2 separate regions of the Homo sapiens genome follow, and region 2 is linked to region 1. Evidence: fine-mapped expression QTL. A gene starts in region 1. The other region holds a variant in brackets. All regions are shown on one strand. Distances are between the middles of the regions.

The links. PIP is the estimated chance that this variant, and not a neighbour inherited with it, causes the effect.
Region 2: its variant is the best candidate, but not a certain one, in a credible set for the expression of C1orf21 in whole blood (TOPMed, PIP 0.55).

The regions. Positions count from the first base shown.
Region 1 is chr1:184,385,759-184,388,663 of GRCh38, forward strand. It overlaps C1orf21 (chromosome 1 open reading frame 21), which reads left to right and starts at 1,271. Exons shown (of 6, transcript NM_030806.4): 1 at 1,271-1,610. C1orf21-DT (C1orf21 divergent transcript) reads right to left here and starts at 946. Exons shown (of 1, transcript NR_172919.1): 1 at 1-946. RefSeq lists silencers at 757-816, 907-1,016, 1,047-1,306.
Region 2 is chr1:184,594,216-184,597,120 of GRCh38, forward strand. The region is part of intron 4 of C1orf21 (chromosome 1 open reading frame 21); the gene reads left to right. Among named protein-coding and RNA genes, the nearest start is that of EDEM3, 160 kb to the right of the region's middle. The variant G/A (reference allele first, on the strand shown) is at 1,431.

The DNA.
Region 1 (2,905 bases):
ACTAGTCTTTTAATTTGAAAAAAAAAGGGGTGGAGAAAGGGAAAACCAGTTTTCAAAAAAGGCCAATTTCCTAGACATTAGTGGTTGATTACTAACTCATTTCATTAAACTAAATTATGAATTGGCTTTTCTCGTCAGTGTCACCACTCTGATGGCGTTCTTTTCCATTTTCCATCTTCACCCTGGCCGAATGTGGGAAATGATCTGGTTTGTGCATAATCCGCGAGGCCCAGGGAGGATCTTTTGCCCCTATTGTTTTCTTGGGTGTTCTCACTCTGGGGGCCTGACATTCCTCGCGTGTCTAAGGCAATGAGGGAGCAGTGAAGCGCGGGGAAGCCGCACAAAAGACATCCAAAGGCTATCAATGGAAAAAGATCAATTAGGTGCACACAAGAAACACCCAATATGCCAGGGAAGAGAAAAATACCCTTTTCCAGAGGGTGGGAAATTGATTGAGCTTCTGTGAGGGTCCACAAAGAACTGGACGGATGCAGTGGTGGATGGCGATCTCTCTGGACCACTCCGGACGCGCCCAGCAGACGCAGCCTACGCCTTTAGGTCCTAGGAGGCTGAGAAGGGTGGGGAGAGGGGGGCAGCACGATCTTGTGTCTTTCCTCCCCGTGCCGCCTCTACCGAATCGCGGATGCTTCATTAATCTTGCAGGCGCCGCAGCTCGGGTCAGTATGGAGGCGGATCGGTGGCAGAGCCCGGGCCTCTGGGCTGCGCCCGCCCGTTCAGCCTGGCCCGGGAGGGGAGCGGCCGCGCGGTGGGCCAAAGACGCCCGGCCTTCCCTCCGTCTGCTTCCAGCAGGCACAGCCGGGAGGCTGGGCTCAGGGGCTGACCCGAATCTCCCCTAGAGCTGGGCCCACCCGGCTGCCCCCCGAGCAGCCTCGCCGCTCCCACGCCACCGCCCAAGTGACAGGCCCGGGAAGGCCGGACGGGACGCAGTCTTCCCGCCGGGGTCTTCCCTCCGGCTGGCCGGCCGCTGCAGGGCGCGCGCGCACACACGTACACACACACACACACCTGCCCACACACACACACACACACACACACACACACTGCCGCCTCCTTCCCGCCCCGCAGCCCTAGCAGCCCCCAACCCGCTCCCCAGCGCGCTGCGCCCCGGCGGCCTCCGCAGGCCCCGCCCCGGGGAGGAGAGCCAGGCGCGCGCGGGAGCTAGGCTCGGGGAGGGGCCGGCGGTGGGGGAGTGTCTGCTGCCCCCGCCCCTCGAGTGAGTGACTGAGCGAGGAGCTCCCCTCCCTCGCTCGCTCCTCGCAAGCTCCCGCTCGCTCCCTGCCCACTCCCGGGGGGACGTTCCGTGCCGCGGCCGCCGCGGCCGCTGCTTCTTTCACACTTTAGTTGGGAGCTGCGCGCCGCGCTCAGTTACTGGAGAGCTGGCCGCGCGCCGCCGCCTCCCGCACGCTTGCACGCGGGCCCGGCTTCGGGGTTTTGGGTTCTTACTCCAAGCGGCGGGGAGGAGGGGGAGCCCCGGACACACTGTGGGGAGGAGGAGGAAGAAGAGGAGGAGGGAGGAAGAAAAAAGACGAGGAGGACAGGGGCGGGGGGCGGGAGGCTTGCCACCTTCAGCCCCCCCGCGAACGCCCAAGGTAAGTGTGAGCCATTGCCTGCTCTGGGGCGGGGGGAGCTGGCGGTGCAGCCCGCCCCGGCTCGGCTACCCGGGCATCCCCGGGTGGGCAGGGAGGGAGGCCTGCGGGGTGTCTGCCGCACGGAAGGGATGGGAGCCGCGGTCGTGGCGCTGCCTGCGCGGGGCCCGGGCCGGGGCTGCTGCTGGTGCGGGGCTGGCGGGGTTGCTGCCAGGGACGGAAGCTGGGGTGGGGGAGCCGCGAGGGGCGTCTGCCGGCCTGGGCGGAGGGGCTGGGATGTGGTCGGGGCTGCTGACGACTTTCGTCACATCGAGGCCTGGGTGGCTGGTGTTAGACACCCCTCCCTTCCCACCCGCACCCTGCCGCCCTCAGCCTTCCTGCTCTCCTCTAGCTTTGCATGTAGCCACCGTACTTTGCAAGCCAGAGCTTGAAAGGAAAAACACAATTTAGGATCCTTTGCTAAGTATCCAAGTCCCTTCTCTCGCTCCGACTGATTGATGTGTTTGTGTGGGTGGTTTGACCCCCGGGATTTCTGAAGTTTTGACCTTTTTGGGGTGGCTCGTTTCGTTGCATCTGTTTGCCCACCTCGGTGTATTTATTATTCGTGCCCATGCGAGGCAGCCAGAGGGTGCTTGGTTATTGTACACGAAACAGATTTCACTCTCCTCTGCAGGCAGTTCGCGAAGTGCCGCCGCCGCGGCTGCCTTTGGTCTGCTGGTTAATGTCCTTTCCCTATCATCCACCCTGCTCCCTCCCTCTACGGAGGGTTAGTTTTTGTTTTTGTTTTTGTTTTTTCCTTTCCACTTACTGTTTGTGTGAGAGAAGTCCTGGGCTTAAGGGCTCTCAGCACTCGTTCATTTCTCTTCTAAAGCTCTGAATGGCTCAGGCATGTCGGTAAAATTTGGGGTGGTCCTCTTTGCTCCAAGAGTTGCATGGCCAAAGATAAAAATATGCACACATAAACACGCATTAATTCTGAGAGACGGCAAGCAGTTTGAGAGAGAAATAATTTGTTTTCAATAGGAAGTCGGTGACCTATGGGATCTCTTCCATTGCCGGTGGGTTAGGAAAATTGTTTTAAAATAGATAGTGCTTGTGTTGTCCGTGGCTGGAAGACAGCCATAGTTCAGTTACTGAAGCAATTCTGAAAGTGATACACCCTGGGCACCCAGAACCTCAGTAAAGACACACGTAGTCTGACTCAGATGTTAGGAAGGGGACTGACACACCATAGATTCCATGGAGTATTTTTTTCTTTCTTTTCTTTTTTTTTTTTGTAGGAGACTGTCCAGACCGTT
Region 2 (2,905 bases), 210 kb after region 1:
TGAGGTCCAGTTGAAAAATGATGATCATGAAGGAAAAACTGTGTTCAGGCCAAGATTTACCAGGAACCCACCTAGTAATTTAATTTCATTTTTGCAGGGGAGGAAGAACTTTACCCCAACCCTCTCAGGATTTCTGGCTGGGCCTGAGAGTTAAGTTGACATGAGACAGATTTAACAGGAGAAAAGATATCAATTTCTACATGTACATGGGAGCCCCTATGAGAAAATGAAGACCCAAGAAGTGACAAAACCCACATATTTGTATACTAGGTTGAACAAACAGAAACAGTTATGGAAAAGCAGCTGAAATATGTGGGGAGACTAAAGGAAGAAAGGAATTATTTTAACAAAGTCTCTTGGTACAGAATTCTCTTGGCCTTGACTCCCTGTCTCTGGTGATAAGAATGTTTCTTTCCTCCTGGTGTGGGGAGGGCATTGTTCACATGGGAGTTTCATCTCCTTCTTTCAGGAAGAAAAGAGGAGGTCAGAAGTCCCCTCCTGCACCTGCTGTTTCCAGTTGTCTTTAGCTCAAAATAGTCCTTATGCTAAAGTAAGCATATTTTAGGATGGCTTATTCTGCCAGGCTTCACAGGTGAGGTATTAGGGAATTAGGACTTTGCCTTCTCATACTTTGGGGCTTAGCTTTTTATCATTTGCAGATTTTATTTTTTTAAGACACCAAAAGCGAAAGCCCCATATCTTTTAGCTCTAAAGCCCATTTTGCCCACCATTCATTAATTTGTTTACTTTGCATTAAGATGCCATTGTATTGTCATCCCTAGTCCCATGAAGCTGAGAAGTCTCAGGAAGAAGAGTGTTTGAGGGTGCAGAGTTAATTCACAAGAGCTTTGCCAGCGCTGACCAAGGGCACAGGGAGTGCTCCAGTGCTGCATTGAGTTTTCCAAGGTTGTTTTAGTTACGAGAGAGAAATAGGAATTACTAAAATTATTGAGCCTTATTGGTTAAGTCAGGTACCAATGTGCAGGCTTTTGTAAGTGAATGCTAGTGAATCTTTTGTAAGTGAATCTTAGAATCAATTATTCATCCTTTATGAACTTAAGTCATAAACAATTCAGTGATCCTTTTCTAATATCTTGAAAAAAGAAAAGCCAGTGAGCTTTTCCTCCTCATCTCCCCCACTCACAATCATCAAATTGTGCATCAGAAAGGATTTTAGAATCAAGTCTTTATGCAGGAACTGTTTTCTACAGTGCAGTTTGTACTCTTGAAGGTAAACACATATTCATGGTGCTGTGTGGATAAGTTTCTTTCACATGGGAAGAGGGGACCCATGTTTATCTAGACAGGAATCAGTTGATATGGGGAAATTTTTATTTCATCAGAATAAAAATTCTGTCCCTGCCCCATTGAAGAGATTTCTCTTCTTCTCCCTGAAACAATCCAATGGAGAACAGCAGAGTAGGCCTCAT[G/A]CTTTCGGATGACACCATATCTGAGACGATGCACAGGTGACCCGTGTGGGCATTTGCTCCCCCGGCAATGTCTGACACACTTCCAGTGACAATGCAGGTTATCTGGAGGAGCCTGTCTGGTGCATCAAGCTTCCTTCCATTCAGTCTTTCCTAACACAACCCATGCACCGTACTTCAAGATGTCAAGAGAGTGACTCAGTCTGGTGTGTGACTCTTCTTCGTGGGTTATGAAATGTGGCAAAGGCAGGCAGGCATGTTCTAATGTTCTTAGACAAAGAAAAAGCAGGCAGCATTTCTATATTATGGGACAACACAAAACTGAAATCGCTGAGAGTTTTGTGGTTGCTTTCCTACATAAGCATCCCGAGGTCCTTAGCCACCACTTTTGGTCTCAAGCTCCTGATAGGGATCCCGACCCTGTGATAAGTGCATTCTTGATCGCAGAGGTTGCAGATACATTTGCAGAGTTACTTTTGTTTAAAAATGCCCCCTCTTGTCCCTCTCATGTGCATGTGTATGAGTACTGACCAAACGTTGCAGTTTTCATGTTGTGGTATTTAAATAAAGGAGCTAATGGAAGTTAGTGACAATCATAGACAGTAGAAGGGACATCAGTGACCAGCCCTGGTTTTATAGATGAGGACTCAGGCCCTGCACATCACCCCTGCTGACAAACTCTGCTGCTTCAGCAAGGGGTCATGAATCACATGAACTTAAATAGGGGGACTCTGTCAATTAATTAAGAAATATTTTTGGCCCTCCTGCTATATTCAAGGCAATATAATGCTAAAACCTCCAACCAGAGAGTTTCCACAATGAACGTCAAATCCTAAAAATGCCGTTTTTTATGAGGTCCCTGGAATATTTTCTAGGGCAACATTTCTGGGGCAACATATACATACGGTTATCTATCCAGTTACCTATATTAAGAGAAAGAGATCTGGCCAGGCGCAGTGGCTTACGCCTATAATCCAAGCACTTTAGGAGGCCGAGGTGAGTGGATCACCTGAGGTCAGGTGTTCAAGACTAGCCTGGCCAACATGGTGAAACCTCATCTATACTAAAAATACAAAAAATTAGCTGTACGTGGTGGCTCACGCCTGCAGTCCCAACTACTCGGGAGGCTGAGGCAGGAGAATTGCTTGAACCCAGGAGGCAGAAGTTGCAGTGAGCTGGGATCGCACCACTGTACTCCAGCCTGGGCGAAAGTGCGAGACGACTCTGTCTCAAAAAAAAAAAAAAAGAAAGAAAGAAAAGAAAAGAAAGAAGTGTTTATGAGAGAGATCCTCTATTATAAGAATATGAAATTTAGAAAGATTTGCATCCAACGTGGCTCAAATAAAAAATGTTTTGGTGCTTGAGACGGTGAAAACATAAGGAACCTGGGAAAACTCAGCTATGCAAACTGGCTTTTCTGCCCAGGATCCTACAGAGAGGAGACAGTTTAATGTACTCTCATCATCCCAGATTCTGTT